Regions from separate parts of the Homo sapiens genome. Here all the other regions are linked to region 2. The links come from fine-mapping of genetic effects on gene expression. A gene starts in region 2. Each other region holds a variant in brackets. All regions are shown on one strand. Distances are between the middles of the regions.

Region 1 (5,146 bases), 60 kb before region 2:
CCAAACCTCAGAGAGCAAACTGGTATCTCAAGAGCTCCATCAGGTACTGTAGTTGGGTGAGCCATTTAGCACTTTGCAAGATCACAAGTACCAAGCTCACACCTATGCAACAGCAGCAGCAGGCCAGTGTGATGGGTGTGTGAGCCACTGACGATGCAGACCAGGTGGTAAGAGAAGTACCCAGGGGCTGTTGGTCCCAGAAGTTCAGTGAGGCTGCTAGACACTGACTAAGCCCAGGCTGAACTGCCTGGGGGCGGCGGCAAAGCAACAAGGAACTAGGCTGAGGAGGTCTTTTCTAGGTCCTGAACCCACCCACCAGGCAGGTTTCTCTTTCCCACCCACCAGGGAAGTTGCCAGTATCACTGGCACCCAGGGCAGGCTTAGTTCGTGCCCCCAAATCTCTCCCCTACATTTAGCAATTCATTTTAGCAAAAATGACTATCTCTGGAGAGATTATCAAAGTGCTCCAGACACAGTTTAACAAAAAAAAAAAAAAGACTCTGAGTTGGAGCAGAGGTTGTGTTCTATGCCCAGCCTTGATCTCAAAGGGCTCAAGAGGCCACTTCCTCCTGCAATGGGAGGACCCTAGGGAGTCTGGTGAACAGAGCACAGCATGGGAAGAAAGCGACTGAAGCCTCCGACTTCCCGTGTATGCCCCAGGCTGCCCTGCTTCTCAGCACAGAGTCGGTCCCTTGGGTAGGGGCCAAGTGGTGTTGTGCCCAGAGCATGGAGTTTGGAGAGAAGCAGACCCAGGTTTCAGTTTCATCTCTGCCTCTGACAACCCGTGAGAGCTGGGGCAGGGTAACGCATCCCCTAACCCTTAGTTCCCACACCTGTAAAATGGGGACTGCTAGCTAATTCTCGGGGCTGGATAGAAATCGGGCACAATCATGCCCACGCACGTTGTGCAAACTCAACAAATGGTGACAGGACCTCAGTGGGTGCTAAGTTGACTGGGCACATCCGATTCCTCTTCAAATAAATAAATATTCCATGTAAATGTCTCTTCCAGGGAATCGTGTACTCCTGATGCCTGAAAATCGTTAAGTGAAGACTTATCACATTACCGATTTGTTCAAAACCACAGCATTCAAAGAGAAAAAAAGAAAAGAAAATGTCAGCAAAAAAACCCAGATGCAGAGCTTCCTGGAGACAATCACACTTTGCTCTGCTTATGAACACTAAACACGCACAGCTGGTTGTTAACAATGCCCCCGTGACGAGAAAGTCGGCAGGTTGGTCCTCGTAAGACGAGTGAAAATAAGTGACGGCTGAGACAGTTGCTAAAGATGGCAAGGACAATCTTCTAAGCCGTGGCATAAACGAGGACACTGAGAACACCTTGAAAGCACTGGACACAGTGGCCAGGCGGCCGCCACCCTCACGGCTCCTGTGCCGACAGCAGCCTCTCTTCTCAGGGCCCTTCTTTCTCCGTGCAGCACCTACATGAAGATCCCCGGAAGGGAGAGGAACACCATGCGGAAGCTACAGGCTTGGCACTGGTCCTGGGCTACAGGCAATGGATAAGAAGACTGGGAAAGAATAAAGGAAGGGCTGGCGCCACCCAAGGACAGAGCAGCAGCAGTCCAGCCTGTCTCTAAGAAGTCACACCTGTCTACGTCTTGCTTGCCATTAATTTAGGGATTGAGCCTGAGCTGTCTCTGATAGAAGATGGTCCACATCCAGATTTGCAGTGGAAAGGCTTAGGGCCAAGCAGAATTCTCTTAGACTGGAAACACTCAAATTACCCGATGATGGAATAAAAGCAGTGGGCAGAAGCCCGTTCTAGCCAATTCTTGGAGAGAAGACGGTTCCCCTGCACTATCAACTGCTCATGACTGAGGCATTCGGGGTTGCTGCAGTGTTAGATTTCCTAACACAGAACACGAAATCCAGACCGTTTCACCTCCTGCCTCGGGAAGGCTCCTAGATCAGCAATGGCCAAATATGTCCAGTACGGGCAGGTGCACAGAAGCCTGAGAAGATGATACGGAAAAGCCGCTTGGAAGACACTGAGAGGAAATTGTGAATCCCATCGCAAGGCCTCCAGCCGGTGAGCAGACACACTGCACTTGGAGTATAAAAGACCATTGCTGATATGGGCCATCAAGCATGAAAAGACACGAAGGACCTTAAATGCAGATCCATAAGTGAATGAAGCCAAAATGGAAAGTTGCCATACGCATGATTCCAACTACAGGACGTTCTGGAAAAGACTAAAATATGGAGATAGTAAAACCATCAGGGATTGCCAGGGGCCAATGAGGAAAGAGAGATGACTAAGGCAGAGCACAGGGCAATTTTCAGGCCAGAAAACCTGTGTGATCTTATAAGGGTGCATCTATATCATCACACATTTGCCAAAACCCAATTAGAGGAAAATGACACACAACCCCAGAACCCACAGGATGTACAACACAAAGAGTGAGTCTGAATGGAAATGATGAGCTTTAGCTAATAATAATGTAGCAAGATTGTCTCAGCAATTGTAACCAAGATACAACACTAATGCAAGATGTTAAGAAAAAGGACAACCGGACTGGAGGGAGGAGAAAGAAAGGGGTAGATGAGAATTCTCTGTGTTTTTGGCTCAATTTTTCTGTAAATCTAAAATGCTTTTAAAAAATTAAGTGATTAAATTAAAACAAAACAAAACAAAAGACCAAGACTAATGTGTTGGTGGTGGCTGAACCCAGGAAGGTGAGGGCCAGGCCTTCCTGTGACTGGCTCTGCTGGTTCTTCTTACAGCCGAGGGCTGGGCAAAAGGTCCAGGTGTGAGTCATACAATGAC[C/G]TTCAGCCAACTGAGGCACACCCAGGTCCTCAGCTTCAGCCCTGAGACCAGGCCAGGCTGTGTGGGAGGGCACCATGGGGACCCTCCCAGAGAAGAGCCTGCAGGGCTGTCCCGGCGGCAAAGGAGCGGCAAAGTCGGCCGAAGCTTCTTCTGCCCAATGGGGACTCCAGCTCCTGGTTGAGAGGAGCCAGGGTTGCTGCTGACAAGACACGGGCCTGCCCCAAACCTAAGAACGGCAAGGGTGCCAATGAGAAAGGGACAAACCTAAGAACAGCAAGGGTGCCAATGAGAGAGGGAGAAGCAAAGCCAGACACCAGGACAGCCTGAGGCAAGGAGGTGTGGGCTTGATCTGGGAAAAGCCAGCCGGAGCCAGGCAGTGCCTCTTCCGTGGGACCCAGCCTGCGTGACAGAGTGGGGGTACAGGGGAGGGACACAGAGATTAACAGAGACTCAAGGCTGGCAAGCCTTGTTGTGGGGTGGGCACCCACCAGGGATGTTCTGCATGAGGATGAGAAACTTGCTAGAACATTCCTTGCACTACCTTCCTCACACCACACAGCAGAGAGGCGAGAGAGGAGCTCACGCTTGATGCAAGGCTACACCAGGGTCAGAGGGCAGGCCCCCGGGGCACACAGGCTCAGCTGCCTTTGGTCTTAGGGAATGAGGCCAGTCCAAAATAAAAAGTCATTTAACCAGAGCTGCCTTGTGAAATGAGCAGAGCAAAGGGCATGCTTCTTTGTAAATTATTACCATAATCGTTTACCTGTAATGCATGTTTATGCAGGCAATGTGACGGTTCATGGAATACTTCACTCCTGACCCCTCCTCTCCCTGTCGCCACCATCCAATCCATCACCATAACTGTCAATTCTATGGCTTACCGTCTCCTGAACCTGCACTTTGTACCACCTCCACTGCCCCCCTAGTGAAAGCTAAATCATCTTTTGCATAAGCTATAGCAGGAGCCTCTTAACTGGCTTCCATAAACTCACCCTCATGCCTCCGCCATCCCAGTTTCCACTCTGTAGCCAGAGTAGCAACTTTAAGAACACAGATCTGTCATTCACCAGCTTAGAACTCACGGGTGGCTTCCTACCAGTCTTAGGACCAACAGTCTTACCTCTGCCTGGAAGGCTTCCCCTGCTGGGCTCCCGGCCTCCTCTCCATTCAATGCCTCACCCCAACTCCCTGAGCTCTAACTCCGCTGGTCTCCTCCGATCCCTCAGGACACTCCCCAGCCAGGCCTCCACAGGGCCTTTGCACGTGCTGGGTGCATGTGTAGGACACTCTTCTTGTTATCTCGTGTCAGCCATCACTTCCTAAAGCAAAATGTCTTCGCCAGACTTGTGATGAGGTCAACCTCCCAGCCCTGGAAACTTAGAATGCCCTGCACCTCTCTTTCGCTGCACTTTCCACACTCTTCCAATTCACATTTCTCAGTCTGCCTCCCCATACTGGAGGACCAAGAGCAGTGCCTGGGATAGCGCCTGACACATGACCCCGATAATCATTTTGTAAATAAAATAACAAACAATTCCCTGAGGTGAGTATTATCATCATCTCTATTTACAGATGGAATGTCTGAGTATCCTGCCCAATAGGGCCGATCGCTTCCTTAGTTCCAAACCTGGACAATCTGACCTCAAAATGTATGGCCCCTACAACTTGTGCTATGTGCCTTTCAGGATGCAGCATGGCTGGGGAATGATTTCTCCCTTTTGACTTCCGTGACTTTTGGAGCAGCAAGGGAGGAGAGCAGAGCCCTTCAGACATGCGGCTCCAGGCACCCAACACATTCAAGCCCTGGTATCCACAGCCAGCTGGAGCCCAGGAAACTCCATGGAAACTTAGAGGATGACGACAGCTTTCACACACTCAGGGGACCACACTCCTTGTGAGGCAGATATGAATGGATTCAGGCTCTCAGTGAAGACTTGGAGGAAAGAAGCAAGTTTGGGAGTAACTAGCCATTTCTGGAGAACATGTTAATCCCCCAGCTGGAGGTCTGGGCCTCTCCTGTTACAAATGTAGGGGATATGGCTGCTTCTAATCTTGCTCTTCTGCAGACCTGTTACAGAGGAGGCCACAGCTGCACCTAGGGGTGTGTCCAAAGGGAAGAGAGCCAGGGGCAGGGCCATGAGACGCATCACTGTGTCTCCTGCTCCAGTCTCTGCTCAGCAGTGGAAAAGGAGCACTCCCCAGACTGAGAACAGGAGCTGGCTGGTTCACCTTAGGGTGAGGACAAACCTAAGTCTGCAGACTTGGTTAAGGAAGGGTTGGATGCAAGATCACAAGGGAGGGAGAAAAGGGAGCTGTCCCAGAGAGGCGAGTAATTCGGACCCCGGCACCATGAGG
Region 2 (5,146 bases):
CAAATCCCAAATGGAGAAAAAAAAAACAGTATGAAATAAATGAAAATTAACTGGATTCTACAGAGGCAGGACTGAGCACATCCACTCATCCAACAGTAATCCCATCTACATCAAATAATGTTTCTTTACAGAGTTTTGCCAACTTCCTATAAAAATCTCATGAATACTTCTTATGTTTGCCAGTTTTTATTTATGCAATTAAATTAGCTTTTTGTAAGAGCTGGACTGGAGAAACAACACATTTTTACAACCCCATTAGTCATACAGTCAAGCTTCATTATATTATAATCATTTATCAGTAGTCAGTAACGAGTATGCTGTTTTCTTGTGCAATGAGGGTGTTTAAGAAAACGTGTCTTCACAACAGGCCATGAAATGTGTCAAATACAGAACACCCGACATTAGTGGTAAAGCCTGTGAGTTCATCTGGTTGTCATCTCTGTTGAAGAGCACAACAGTTGAATGAACACAAACCTAGCTTTAGCTTAGAAGCCACATTCTTAATTATTAACCCCTTCATGCTTCCACCCTTTCCAAACTCCACTCCCTTAAGAGGAGGTCACTTCATTTAGAATTAATAACTGTTATTCAAGATGCTCATGAGAGATCATTTTGGCTTCAGTCGTTTTGCTGCAGTTTATTCTACATATTTCTCCCTAAATCAAATGTATACACGTCCCTGAGACTTGTGTATGACCTTAGTCCCTGGACCTTGGGAAGTCACGATGTCGTGGAGGAGAGGGGAGCTGGGAGCCTGAAGCTGACAGATCCCGGGATCCCGCAGGCCCCCCGCAGGGCTCCCGCCCTTCCACCGAGGCACCCGTCGAGGTTGCCCCAGATGCTCATTCTGCGCCCATCAATGGGAGTAACTGAGCTTAGAGAGGAAAAACTACGGCTTCAACAAAGCACAACGTGTGCAGCTCTGATAATGCAGGGCGGAATTATGGAGACACCGTCGGGGCTGGCTGGAAAGCGGAAAGCGTTCCATCTCAGGATTTTCACGGGGAATTTCAAGAACCAAGGGGGCCTCTGAGATCCCCAGAACCTCTCCTTTCCACGAGGCAGCTTCCTTCCTTCCCTGCTCGTTCTCCACAAAAATCAGGGCTGCCCGGATCCCAGCAGTGAGCGCTGCTCTCTTTGGCTGCTGTATCCCCAACCGCTGCTGAGGCGCAGCTGGAGTGAGCCCCTCCGAGCCCCGCTTTGCGCAGCTGCAGCTGGAGCCCAGAGGCGCCCGGAGCTCGGAGAAAAGCACTGTGCTCCGCGGGACCCAACCCTCCCCACGGCCACCAAGGGGGCCCGCAGATCCCCGGGCACCGGCAGCCGAACCCAGACAGGGGCGTCCCAACCGCTGAGCCCGACGCCAGAGGGCACCGCGGGGGAGAGAAGGCGCCGCGCCTCGCTCCTGGCACTTGGTCCCCGGGAGTCAGGGACATGCGCGCCCCGGAGCTGGAGCCCGGGAAAATTACTGCGCGGGCACAGAGGAGCTAGAGAGGTCCCCGACCCTCCCAGCCCCGCGCCCAGGTACCTCGCAGCCGTAGAGCTGACCCAGCTGCTCCACGATCCATTCCTCCAGCACCAGCCGCTTCCGAAGCTCCTTACGATCGTATTTCACTGTCACTTTTCCCTGCTGGTGTCGCCGCTGCTGTTGCTGCTGAACCTGCCCTGCAGCGGCCGCCGTGGCCACGGGCGCCGAGTCCTCCCGGGAGGAGCCTGAGCCGCTGCTGGAGCCGGGGCTGCCACCGGCGCCACCCCGGGGGCTTTGGAAGAAAACCCGTGCGCCGCCGCCGCTGGCCCCGCCGGCCGTCTCGCTGCTGCCCGTCGCCACCGACATGTCCCCGCGCGCCCGAGCCTCAGTGCGGCCCGGAGGAGGGGCGGGCGGAGCGCGCCCGGCGCCGCTACCACCTCCGGCCCGGCAGCCGCATGCGAAGGGCTCCCCGGCACCTGCTCTGCGCCGCGCGCGCCCAGCCGCCCGGCTGCTCTGGGAGGGCGGGAGGAGCCGCGGCGAGAGGGAGGAGGGCGGGGAGGACGACGGGGCGGGGACCGCAGCCTTAAAGAAGCCGCCGAGGACCCTCTCGGTCCAGCCCCCAGAGGCGGGATCTGGCGCCTGCGGCAGAGAGGGCCCGGGGCGTGGGAGTCTCCGCGGGGCGGGAAATGTGTGCGCCTAGACACGGGAGGTCGCCGATGTGTAGACTCCGGAAGGACGGGCGTGGGGCGGGGTGCCAGGGGATGCTCCTGCGCGGGTGTCCGTGGCCTCTAGTCTCGGAGACAGGGACTCACGCTTCTCCCGCAATCCCGGAGCGCAGGAAACGCGCCGCCTCTCGGGGCCTCCACCTGGCGCGGCCCCGGGCAGGACCCGCAGCGAAGGGGACACAGGAAAGGACCGCGCCGCAGGCTCCCCCAGGAGGTTTTCCTAGCCCCACCGTCTCCTCTGTTGGCTGGGTAGCGTCCCCTCCCCTCCAGCCCCGCCCCACGGCTCCAAACACACATTCCTATTCATGCCACGATGGATGCCACTTCCTCTCTGGATTGTGAGAAACATCGAAGAGGCGATGTTTGTGCAATAAGGCAGTCACGGCGCTTGAGAAATTATTTCCAGACCAATGTTTTCTTTCCTTACTAAGCGTCTGCTTAATCATGGGCACAGCATTCGGATATCTTCGTATCCAAAGGGCAGAAAGCGTGACGGCGCTCAGGCAAGGCGTCTGGGGGCATCCAGACAGTAAACATTTCTCTAAGAGGGTCGGCGACAGGGTCCTGGTTTCACATTTCTAGTGTTGCGTCCCGTGCACTGCCAGCTTTCTCTCCATCCCATTCCAAACAGCCCCTTCCACCCAGGAGGGCAACAGCACTGCCTGACTCTACTGCAAAACATCACAGCCTAGTAGTTACACATGAAGGAGCTTCTCAGAAGGGTTAGGACAATAAGGTGGGGAGGGAAGTTGTAAACAGAAAACTGCATGTGTAAAATTAGGGAGACACTAACATATTCTTCTTGTACACAACAATACATTCCTGTTCAGGAACTGATAGAAACCACAGAGACGTCCGAATGAATACAAGTAAGCGGCTTTTAGTAACGGTTTTGTTTTGTTTTGTTTTTTGAGACGGAGTCTCTCTGTTGCCCAGGCTGGGGAGCAGTGGCGAGATCTCGGCTCACTGCAACCTCTGACTTCGGGGTTCAAGCGATTCTCCTGCCTCACCCTCCTGAAGAGCTGGGATTACAGGCTTTCGCCACCACACCAAGCTAATTTTTGTATTTTTAGTAGAGACAGGGTTTCACCATGTTGGTCATTCTGGTCTCGAACTCCTGACCTCATGATCCGCCCGCCTGGGCCTCCCAAAGTGCTGGGATTACAGGTGTGAGCCACCGCGCCTGGCCATGAACTTTTTTTGTTTGTTTGTTGTTGTTGTTGTTTTTAAATAAAAGAGCCCTAAAGGTTACTGGCAGCTACTCAAAGAAGTTTCTCAGAGATAAAATAGATACCAAGTCAAATTCCTCGGAACACTTTCCTATGATGGAGAAGATCCTGTGTGGGGTTCTAGACTGACACTACAAAGACAAAATAAAAGTAACCAGCAGGTTTCTCCTGGCGCTTCAGGCTCTGCGATCCACCAGCGCCCAGCTCTGCTCTACCCAGGCTTAGGATCCATTGCCTTTGTACCCTCAGTCTGGGGTTTTCCAGTGAGAGCCTGAATAGGGATTTTCCCAAAGTGTTCCATGCCTGCGGCTCTTCACAGGGACATGTCAAGCCTCACAATGTGAAGGGGAAGGATCTGCGGAGATTGAAATAGGGTGGCTGGTGTGGGGCCCTGGACTCCTGCCATAATTACAAAGGGGTCAAAGCTGAACGATCTCTGCCCCGCTAGAAGAGGCCAGCTGCCCTTTAGAAGATGGGTTTTGCACCGAGCCTATCAGGGACAAGGGAGATGAATTACCTTGATTGCCCCTAGAGACCGATGACCAGTCTCTGCACCACCTCTGCCCCTCTGCCTTTAGGGTGGGTCACTGTAAACCCCGAACACACAGCCAAGAGAGTGACCACCTCAAAATGGAACTCTGTCTGCAAGGAGGAAGGGAAAGGAGGGCAGGAACCAGCCCCAGCATCTCCCACACAGAATCAGCTTATATGGCTCCAGACATCTGGCCAAGTCCGCTAGCACCAGCTTTGACCAACTGCACTAATCAGGAGAATGCAAATCAGAACGAAAACAGCTTAAATGTTATTAACAAAGGAGAAACTACATAAAATCTCTACCTCATTCTGGCCCTGGGACCTGACAATACCTATTGTGCCATCCCACAGTTTGGCAAAGTCTGGGGAATTCCAACTCCTTTCTTTAAGTCTTTGGACAACGAAATCAGTCATTCAAGGATAACGTCAAATAATTTTAAAAAATTCACTAAGTTCTTTCTGAGAAATTCTGATGTCAATTTTTTTCTCACAGCATAAGATGCTTTTTCCTTTATGCTTAAAACTCAATTTTCCCTTACAACTCCAAAATGACAGATACTAAAAGACATGGGTTTTAAGCATCTTGACTCACAGAAGAAAATCCAGGAAATAGTCTCTTTCCACAGGTACGCTGGCCTTCAGATGTTCAAGTGAGTCACCTTGACTGGCAAATAGAATTGAACCAGGGTTCCTCTTTCTTTAAATCCATTTGCTCCACCCAGTACGTAATTTATATTCAAAGTGAAGTCCATATCATCTCCTCTACCCCCAGACACACACACTTCATTCCAGGTTTGAATAATCAAAACTTAATGGCCTCATTTTGACAGATAGAAATACTGCTTTTGCAGATTTCAAATATTGAAGCCAAAATATTTAGGAATAAAGGAATTTTTCCTAGTCCAGAGACCCTTTACATAGCTGACTATTTAAATTCGGCAAAACCAGTGGTATTTCTCATCTACAAAACCAATAATATATACATTTATTCAAGGAAAACATTTTTATTTCTAGCCTATTTAGTCAAGTGTTTTTAGGTGCTGGTTAATCTAAGACAGTGAATAGCTTTCAGTGAATTGAATGGTCCGGAATCAACTTTTACCTGAAGGCAATTACTCCCTGCTATGAGAGGGCAGCCTAAGGATGTTTCATTTGAATCTTTTTCTTCGTAGTTTTGTGTTTTCTTAGCTTGG
Region 3 (5,146 bases), 120 kb after region 2:
GTTCCCAGCCCTATGCATGGGAGGCACTTCTCACACACAGATCCCTGGACCTGCCAAGCTCTGCCCCTCTCAGATCTGAGAACTGCCCACCCCCGTGTGTCTGTTGTCCTCCAGACCACCCTCCACATGGCCCCTCCTGGACAGAGGCTCTAGTGCATCAGGCCAGAAACTTCTAGGCTCCTGTGTCCCTGCACAGTCACAGAGGGGCTGCTATCCCATCCCCCTGTGCAGAAGCAGAGACAGTCCCTGGGCTTGGTCTAGGCCTCCTCCCCTTTCCCGCAGCCTCAGGGCTCTGGGGATTGCTGGTCACCAGGTGTGCATCCTCCCCACATGACAACTGTGTGGAGAAGAAGGTCTGTGTCTATTTTACTCATTTAATAGGGAGAAGGCTGAGTGGCTGGGGGCAGTGTGGGACTCAGGGGCTCTGCCCATTCCTTATCCCAACAGCCAGGGATCGCTGGGCCCCCCACCTCCCTCTGCCTTCTGCCCACAGGTCTAGATGCCTTCATGGTGACTAAGACAAGGGGGCACTTGGGGTTGCCCCTTTGATAATGAGTCCAGTGACCATCTAGGGGCTGAGCAGAGGTGTGGGTGCAGCCATGGATTCAGGTGTGGTTGGCCACGGATTGGTGTGCTGGAAAGTGAACCCCACACGTGTGTAGACTCCTCCCTCGGCTCCTGCTCTTCGTGGAAACACAATTGATTACATGATTGAGCAAGTTGTTCACTAGGTCTTTTTAGGAAGGGATGTAGTATATTCTCAAAGACCTCATGCTTCTAGCAGAGAGGCAAAGAAATGTGTGAGCAATTGTCACACAGGGAGATCTGGATGCACCCACTGTGAACCCAGGTCTCAGGGAGCAGGAGGGTGTTCTGTATTGTGGGAACATGCAGGACACACATGGGAGGGGGTATTTGTGCCCGGCTTTGAAGGATGGCTGGCTCTTTGCCCAGGGGGAAGAGGCCAGCAGAATGCGCTGACAGTTGGGAACCACTAGGAACTTTCAGTTGAACCTGCTCTGCTGAGCCCCCTGTGCCATCGGTGGACCTGGGCCAGGGCGGCTGCTGAACTGGGAGCTCAGAGGTAATCTCTCTGAGGAGCTTTCTAAATCAGCAAGCGTGTCACAGGTTGAGATTCTAGGGATGAGGTCCTCAATGCTGTCCTCGATTTTAATGAGCAGCCTTTTGGCCAGTCTGCACTGGGTGAAGCAGAAGCAAGACATAAATTGTTAAGATAATTTTTAAAGCTGCTTAATTTTGGTAAAAACATAGAACATAGAATTTACCATCTTCACCAATTGTTTACTATACAATATGTTGTTTTGAACCTCTGAAACCCTACCTGCTGTTTCTGTAATAAAACCTAGCCCAGGCCGGGCACGCTGACTCATGCCTGTAATCCCAGCACTTTGGGAGGCCGAGGTGGGTGGATCACCTGAGGAAAGGAGTTTGAGACCAGCCTGGCCAACAAGGTGAAACCCCATCTCTACCAAAACTACAAACAATTCGCCGGGCTTGGTGGTGGGCACCCGTAATCCCAGCTACTCCAGAAGCTGAGGCAAGAGAATCGCTTGAACCCAGGAGACAAGGCTGCGGCGAGCCGACATCGGGCCGTTGCACTCCAGCCTGTGCAATAAGAGAGAAACCCCATCTCCAAATACATAAATAGATAAAGAAATAAAAAATAAAACCCAGCCCGGACTGTAACCACGCCCACCGGGGACTGGGGAAGTAGTGGAGGGGACGCGAACAGGCCCATGGCTGTGCCCAGGGCGGGGTGAGCCAGGGACCCCGCGGCGCAAGCGGAAGGAGGGAGAGTGCCGCGGACCCAGGCGGGGACAAGGAGACGCCGAGGCCGCTGAATATTCCTCTGCACGTTTCTTCACCATTAATAAAAAATGCTATAATGATTAAATGAGTCTGTCGTGGAAGGAATCGTGTCCTGGCAGGAGTGGGGCCCGGGCACGAGGCCACCAAGCTGCCGGAGCGGGTGAAGAAGGGAAGGGACACTAGCATGGAAACTGGATTTCGTCCAGACAATGAAACGAAGAGGTGGAACGCGCCCAGTGACTACGCCCAGTAGCATTAAAATCTGGCTTTTCAGAA[T/C]CGAGGTGACTCATTCCCCGGTACATTCCCCAGTAACTAACAGTATATAAGCCAGCCTTTCAGCACAGAGGTGATTTCATCTTCCAGGATCCACCTTGATTAAATCTCTTGTCCCCAGCCCTCCTGGTCCCCAATGGCAGCAGCCGCCATCCCAGCTTTGCTTCTGTGCCTCCCGCTTCTGTTCCTGCTGTTCGGCTGGTCCCGGGCTAGGCGAGACGGTGAGCTGGTGGATGGAGCCTAAGCGGGGCGGGGGCCAAACCTGAGGGACTGTGGACTGCAGCGGGTTTCAGAGGAGGGAAGGCTTCTGGAAGGACAAGGGAGATCTCCCCGAACTGCGCCCCCAGCTCAGTTCCCCTCCTGGGCTCCTTCCCGCCGGGTCCACTCCCCAAGGCTGTTCTTGCCCCAGTAGGGGCGAAAAAGAGCAGGGTGAAAACGAGGCTGGCAGGAGGGTGGAGGGGCCAGAGGGCTGCGAGGGCTAGGTGGGGCCCGGATTCCTAGTGCAGCCCGGCAGTCCCACCCGCCTTTCGGAAGGAGAAACCAGAGCCCCCCCGGGAACAGAGCTGGGGTCAGGACTGGGTGAAGGGGGGTACCACAGGGATACAATCACAGACGCCCCCACCAGCCACAAGCCTGCTCTGCTCTCACCTGCTCTCTACCACACAAACCCTCCAGCACCCCCAGGACTCCCTGCCTTTGTTTTCCCCGCACTTTTCCTGTAGACACTCACCTGCACCCAGGGGCTCAGCAGATACCCGCCACCCCTCCCCTCACCATCCACTGCCACCACCCAGGTCACATCCTCTTACTGCCCACCTCAGCCCAGCTGGTCACCCCTGAGGTCTCCCCATCCATGAAGGGTACCTCACCACCTCCTACACCACGTCGCACCTTCTGCCTCTTGCCTGAGGACACACCCCAACAAACACACCCCAAGCTCCCCTCAGAACCTGTGCAGGGGGGATGGGAAGCACCATTTCCTCCAGGATGACCCTGGGAACTCTGGTGAGTAGAGGCACCCACTTCTGCCCTTGGGGCCCAGACCGCCTGTTCTTCCTACGGGGGTGTCAGCGTCATAGAGAATAGTCACTGTGTAGACAGGGGTCAGCAAACCCTTTCTAGAAAGGGAGGAAGGATGCCCTGTGATCTTTGCAGGCCATGGGTTCTCCGTCTCTGTGTCCAGTCCTGTCCCTTTGTAGAGCAACAGCAGGCAATGGCAACCTTCAAAGAGGGGGGACCAGATTTGGACCCTGTCCTAGGTTGCTGATCCCAGATCAGGGGATTACAGTGTCCCAGTGCCCCATCCCCTAGGGTGTCATCTCCAAGTGATGTCTCTGATGTCAGTTGGAAAGTAGAAGGTGGCCCTACCTTGCCTGTGGCTTCTGGGTGGTGTGGATGTGATGGGAGTGGGGGTCCCATAGTTGGGGGCTTATTCTCCCCTCCTTTGTGCTGAGTGGCATCCATGGGGACCATCAGGTACCCTCCCTGAAGCCTCAGGTGTGAGCTGAGGGTGAGTGGGTGCAGCCACGTGGTGTCCTGGGGATCAGGTCCAACTGCTTGTGCAACTTCTTGGTTCCCGGTGGCCCTGCTCCTGCCCATCCCAGAAGAACCACCTGCATCTTCTCACTGCTGGGCCTATCTTCCTAATGACCTAGAGGGCGAGGAGCCCACCAGTAATGGGCAGCTCTGAGGCCTTCAGGAATAGGCATCCCTAAGCTTCATTCCATTCTGGTGCCTTGTCATGGGGCCTTCTTTATATGCATGGCAAAAGGCCCCATCTCTGCCAAGGTGCAGTACTCTACAGGAGCCACTGCTTAATGTTGCGATTTCCTTGCTGTGAGTGGCATTGCCTTGTCTCTGAATATTCACATGGAATCTCTGTTGTGATTCTCCAATTAGACATTGTGACCACATGTACCTCTAGGATCTTAGGGGGTCTTGGGTCATTGGGCACTTAAGGTAGGTCCAGCCTCGCTCATCATTCATGGATTGTCTATGGCTGCTTTTGAGCTTCAACAGCAGAGTTGAGTAGTTACAATGGAGAATATATTCCCTGAACACCTTTACATGTTTACAAAATTGCCCTTCACAGCAAACTCTATTGGCCATAAATATCTCTGGAGAAGGCCACAAGGACTCACTGTCCTGGCTGCAGGGTTAAAGGGTCCTTCCTCACTAGAAACTGGTGTCTTCTTATAGTCATGGGTTCAGGGTCTGAGAAGTGGCTTCATTCTGCAAATTAGGCAAAGCAGCCTCGTTCTTGATGGACTGGCTACTTTCAGCCTCCTGATTTGGTTTATCTCTGTTTCTTGTAATTATTTAAATCCAGCAGTATCCGGGGTGGGTTTCCATCTCTTTTGGACTTTGGACCCCTTTGTTCTATGAGCCATGGGCATAACTTTGTATAACTGAGGTCCCCAGCTGGCATTGTGACTTCTCTAATCATTTCCATCATTGCACCCTCCTTGCTCCTGACAGTTGACAGCCTCCACCTGGAATTTGGAATTTCAGAATTGTTCATCCCATTACTCTGGGAGCAGATTTCAGGAACAGCATCTCCTACCCCCAACCCTGGCCTTCAGCAATAGGCATCCCTAAGCTTCATTCCATTCTGGTGCCTTCTCATGGGGCCTTCTTTATATGCTGGGTAAACAGGAGTCCTCCAGGTTTCCCATAAGCACAGTGGATGGACATTGTTCTGGATTTTCACACTTAGACCCCTCTGGCATGGGCACTTCTCTGAGCCTGTGATCTCTCCCTCCACTACCTGCCTTAGACTTTCAGATTTTCCATTTCTTGCTGTGTGGACCATCTCTTTGTCCAAGGTTTCAGGAAGGCCTCCTCATAGCAGATGCATGCCATCACCAGGGGCTTTGCCAACATGTTACATCCTGTGACCATGATAATTAACTCTTCTTTATCCAACGGGGTTCCATCCTCACTCTGTTCAACCAGCACCAGCATCCACAGGGGTGGACCCACACCCTCTCCCACCTCCCGCAGTCCACGTGGGCTACTGCTGAAGATCCTCTGCCATCCAGGC
Region 4 (5,146 bases), 26 kb after region 2:
TGGGGAAGGTACACAGTGCAAAATGACCCTCATTGGCAAAGTATCAGTGAGTTTGAGACAGCATCAGCAGACCATTCCACGCAGGCCTGTGAGGCCGGCCCTCAACTCCAGCCTCCCACTCCCCGCACTGACTGTCCCTTGCTCCCTGAAGAGCTTCCTGAGTGATACAGCCTCTGCATTGAAGTGTTGACATGCGCTTCATTGTGAAACTATATTTACTCAGGTGCGATTTGTCACTTTCTTTTGATTCCAGGCATGCAGGTTCTGAGCAGAGAATCTAGACTCTGGCCTCCTCTGAACTTGCACCAGGCCCCAGTTGCCTGGCAGCCCCTTGTCTATGCCAGCACTGCCTTCCCCAGGCTGTGCCCGCAGGGCCCCCAGGCAGGGAGTGAAGCAGACGCGTGCGCATGTTAAACACAGGCACATTCTTCACTTCCACCAAGAACTACTCAGATCCCACGCTGCCAGCTTTCCAGGTTTCCATGAAAATTCAGATTTTAATGTGAAAAAACTTTTAAATGTTGACAACTAAATAAAATTTTTAAAAGAGACTGTGCAAGCAAAACAATGGATGGGTGTGAGCCCTATGTAGTCGTGAGCTGCAGTTTACCCTCTGCAGCACCTACGCTGTCTCCAGGTGTCATTCCCGGCAGCCCGCCCACGAGGACATTCACTTGTAAGGGAGGAAAATGTCCTTCTGCTGTCTGAGGGCTTCCAGCTGGGACTGACATAAGACAGATTAGCTGGACAAAAGCACACAAATTTGATTTGTGTGCAGTGGAAGCCCTCACAAGAAAGATGAAGACCCAAAGAAGCGGCTAAACCTATGTGCTTACATATTACATTGGACAAAGAATAACAATTGCAGAAAAGTAACTGAAATATATGGGAGACTAAAGAACAATAACGGTTATTTTAACAAGATCTGTTTGTGCAGATTTCTCTCAGCCTCAACTTCCGTTCTCTGCTGAAAAGAATGTTTCTCTTTGCTGGTACAAGATGGTCACTTTTTTTGTTTTGTTTTTTGGAGACGGAGTTTCGCTGTTGTCGCCCAGGCTGGAGTGCAATGGTGTGATATCAGCTCACTGCAACCTCTGCCTTCCGGGCTCAAGCGATTCTCCTGCCTCAACCTCCCCAGTAGCTGGGACTACAGGCACCCGCCACCATGCCTGGCTAATTTTTTATATTTTTAGTAGAGACAGGGTTTCACCACGTTGGCCAGGCTGATCTCGAACTCCTGACCTCAGGTGATCCACCTGCCTTGGCCTCCCAAAGTGCTGGGATTACAGGTGTGAGCCACCACGCCTGCCCAGTGGTCACATTTTATATGGGTATTTTATCCCCTGCTTCTGAAAACAAACAAAAAAAGATCAGAGTGCCCTTCCCACACCTGCTTTTTTCCAGTGTTTTTAACTTAAAATAGTTAATTTTGAGTGAATAGCAGCATATTTTGGGGTGGCGCATCCTGAACTCCTTCCCCCGCCACGAGGCTGTGCTTCCTCCCCTATAGGCCCTACTGGGTTTCACAGGTGCATGGAGCCACTGTTAAGATGTGTGTCCCTCAAGAGTGGCAGAGGCCTTGGGGGTGTGGCGGTCCCTCTGATTGCCACGTGGATAGGCAGGGTCTCAGCAGATGACGGCTGGAGGAGGTGAGAAGGCGGAGCGTGGAGCGTCTTGACAGGGTGGAGGGGAAGCTGGCATCAGATGTAGCCAGGTGTCCTGAATAGTTGGGGGCGAAGGCCGGGCGAGGTGGCTCACGCCTGTAATCCCAGCACTTTGGGAGGCCGAGGCAGGCGGATCACGAGGTCAGGTGATCCAGACCACGGTGAAACCCCGTCTCTACTAAAAATACAAAAAATTAGCTGGGCGCGGTGGCGGGCGCCTGTAGTCCCAGCTACCCGGGAGGCTGAGGTAGGCGAATGGCGTGAACCCGGAAGGCGGAGCTTGCAGTGAGCCGTGATTGCACCACTGCACTCCAGCCTGGGCGACAGAATGAGACTCCATCTCCAAAATAAATAAATAAATAAATAAATAAATAAATAAATATAGTTGGGGGCCAGTGGTGAGAAGGGGGTGGTCGGTTGAACAAGGGTGGTGAGAACAGTAGACCAGAGACCCTAGAAAGGATGTGCTGGGAGAGAAGCCTCAACGGAAAAAGACCAGTAAAGACAAGGCCACCCGCTCGCAGTTCCACCCAAGGCTTCCCCTTGACGTCCAGGTCTCAATGGAGAACTCCTGGATGGCCTTTGGGGCCGCTGGAGAAAAACAGCAGTCCCCCCAGATGCTCCCGGTGGCTCCTGGTTGTGACTCAGAGCCACCTTTTGGGGCAGGCCCCAGCATCTTTCAAGGGAAGAAGCACAGATTGGTTTCCTGCCCGGGCAGCCCCATGAGGTTTGCCTCCCAAAGGCGTTTGTGGGATTGGCCTCCTGGGAGCCCGAGAGGAGCAAACACTTGTAGAATTTGTTCATT[T/C]CTCTCATTGTAAGTTTCTGTTTGATGAATTCCATGTTCCCAGGAAATGCCCTCGGCACTTTCAATAACACAATAGCTCTTGTTGAGGTAGGGGGTGGGGGTGAGGGACAACTTTGTAAAGCCCCTTATTGACACCATGAATGGGGAAGGCAGTTGGCACCATTCCTTCCCAGAACTGGGGCCAGTCTGAGCAGGCCAGCCCTGGGGAGCCAGAGAAGCGAGGCAGGAGCTGGGGGAGCACACAGCTGGCCCTGCCCAGGCCCAGGGGCTGAACTCTATCCACAAAGCCTGACTTTGTGGATAGGACGTTAGGCCAGAGAAGTCCAGGCCCAGGCAGGCCCGGTGTTGACTGTTGACCCTCAGAGAGGAACTCAGCTTCCAAGGAGGCTCAAAGGACTGGCATCCTCTTGTGTCCATTAGCCCCTGGTAAGAAGTGACAACGTGCTAGCAGCCCTCGCTCACTCTTGGTGCCTCCTCGGCCTCAGCGTCCACTCTGGCCGCGCTTGAGGAGCCCTTCAGCCGTCGCTGCACTGTGGGGGCCCCTCTCTGGGGCTGGCCAAGGCCGGAACAGGCTCCCTCTGCTCTCAGGGAGGTGTGGAGCGGGAGGCGCCGAAGCCAGCCGGGGCTGAGCGTGGCGCTTGCAGGCTGGTGCGGGTTCCGGGCTGGCACGGGCTCACGGGGCTCCCTCACTAGGCTCAGCCGGCCGGCGCCTGCTGGGCTTGATCCGGGACAAGCTCCCTCTGGGCTGCTGGAGTGCCTGGGCTAGGTGCTGCGAAGTCCCCCGGCGAGTGCCATTGAGAGGTGAAGCCAGCTGGGCTCCTGGGCTGGGTGGGGACTTAGAGAACTTTTCTGCCTAGCCAAAGGATTGTAAATGCACCAATCAGCACTCTGTGTCTAGCTAAAGGTTTTGTAAATGCACCAATCAGCGCTCTGTGTCTAGCTAATCTGTTGGGGACTTGGAGAACTTTTGTGTCTAGCTAAAGGATTGTAAATGCACCAATCAGCACTCTGTCAAAATGGACCAATCAGCTCTCTGTAAAACGGGCCAATCAGCTCTCTGTAAAATGGACCAATCAGTAGGATGTGGGTGGGGCCGGATAAGAGAATAAAAGCACTCCACCTGAGCCAGCGTCGGCAACCTGCGGGGGTCCGTTTCCACGGTGTAGGAACTGTTCTTTTTCTCTTCACAGAAAATCTTGTTGCTGTTCACGTTTTGGGTCTATACCAACTTTATGAGCTGTAACACTCACGGCGAAGGTCTGCAGCTTCACTCCTGAAGCCAGCGAGACCACGAACCCACCAGAAGGAAGAAACTCCAAACACATCTGAATGTCAGAAGGAACCAACTCCCGACACACCATCTTAAGAACTGTAACACTCACTGCAAGGGTCCGTGGCTTCATTCTTGAAGTCATCGAGACCGAAAACCCACCAATTCCGGACACACTGGGATTTAGAGAAGTGACCAGGATTTCTTCAGACCACCTGAGGCCATTGGCAATGGACACCTAGCCACGTTTAACCTTTTCACACAAAGTGAGCATCAGTAGACTAACCCTAGGAGGTTTCGGGTGGACACTGACAGGTGTTGGGCATGTCCTTATAACTGGAATTATTGACAATATCTTTCAAAAACTATCTGTGCAACAAGGAGCCAGGTGAAGATTTGGCAACTACAGTACCTCGCAGATTCAATCAAAGTCGATGAAGTATGTCTTCTTGCCTAAATAACCCAGTGTGGTTTTGAACGCTGAATCCATTAACCAAGTAGATCCTTCCACTTTCATTCTCTCTAAATTGTGTATCTTCATAGCAAATGATTTCCTTTTGAGATGACTTGTGTTCTTTAACTTTACAGGAAAGATGTGCAGTAGTTCCCGTGTTCCAAAGTTTCACTTTCCGTGCTTCTAGTTACCCACTGTCATGTACAATCCAAAAACATGACCTATGATAGGTGGCTTTGAGAGAAAGAAAGAGGCCACATTCACGTAATTTTTTTTTTTTTTTTTTTTTTTTTTGAGAAGGAGTCTTGCTCTGTCGCCCAGGCTGGAGTGCAGTGGTGTGATCTCAGCTCACTGCAAGCTCTGCCTCCCTGGTTCACCCCTATTCTCCCACCTCAGCCTCCCAAGTAGCTGGGACTACAGGTGCCCGCCACCACGCCCGGCTGATTTTGTTTTTGTGTTTTTAGTAGAGGCAGGGTTTCACCATGTTAGCCAGGATGGTTTCGATCTCCTGACCTCATGATCCGCCTGCCTTGGCCTCCCAAAGTGCTGGGATTACAGGCGTGAGCCACCGCCCCCGGCCCACGTAACTTTTATTACAGCATATTGTTATCATTGTTTTATTTTATTATTAGTTGTGGTTGTGAATCCCATACTGTGCATAGGTGTATGTGTACAGTTTAGGAAAAAACACAGTATATATAGAGCCCAGTATTATCGGCAGTCTCAGGCATCTACTGGGGATCTTGGAGCGTATCCCCCACAGGTAAGGGGGACTACTGTATACACTTCATATATTTGCTTTTTTAGAAACATCTTCTAGAGTAAATGAATGAATCCTTACAGCCTTTTACATCGTGTGTTTCATCCTCCTTGCCTGCAAAGCAACGCAGAATTTCTGCTAATTAAGGTAGCTCTAAATGTGCTGTTTAGAACTGTAAAGATTAATTGTAGTA

The links.
Region 1: its variant is fine-mapped to the expression of PPP1R14C in esophagus mucosa (GTEx, PIP above 0.99). The same link has a PIP of 0.9 or more in sun-exposed skin and unexposed skin.
Region 3: its variant is fine-mapped to the expression of PPP1R14C in cerebellar hemisphere (GTEx, PIP 0.99).
Region 4: its variant is fine-mapped to the expression of PPP1R14C in lung (TOPMed, PIP above 0.99).

The regions. Positions count from the first base shown.
Region 1 is chr6:150,200,347-150,205,492 of GRCh38, reverse strand. All of the region lies in intron 1 of PPP1R14C (protein phosphatase 1 regulatory inhibitor subunit 14C), which reads right to left. Among named protein-coding and RNA genes, the nearest start is that of PPP1R14C, 60 kb to the right of the region's middle. The variant C/G (reference allele first, on the strand shown) is at 2,792.
Region 2 is chr6:150,139,878-150,145,023 of GRCh38, reverse strand. It overlaps PPP1R14C (protein phosphatase 1 regulatory inhibitor subunit 14C), which reads right to left and starts at 1,980. Exons shown (of 4, transcript NM_030949.3): 1 at 1,526-1,980. The coding sequence starts at 1,831.
Region 3 is chr6:150,022,565-150,027,710 of GRCh38, reverse strand. It overlaps RAET1L (retinoic acid early transcript 1L), which reads left to right and starts at 2,179. Exons shown (of 5, transcript NM_130900.3): 1 at 2,179-2,324. The coding sequence starts at 2,240. The variant T/C (reference allele first, on the strand shown) is at 2,107.
Region 4 is chr6:150,113,937-150,119,082 of GRCh38, reverse strand. No RefSeq gene overlaps it. Among named protein-coding and RNA genes, the nearest start is that of PPP1R14C, 27 kb to the left of the region's middle. The variant T/C (reference allele first, on the strand shown) is at 2,470.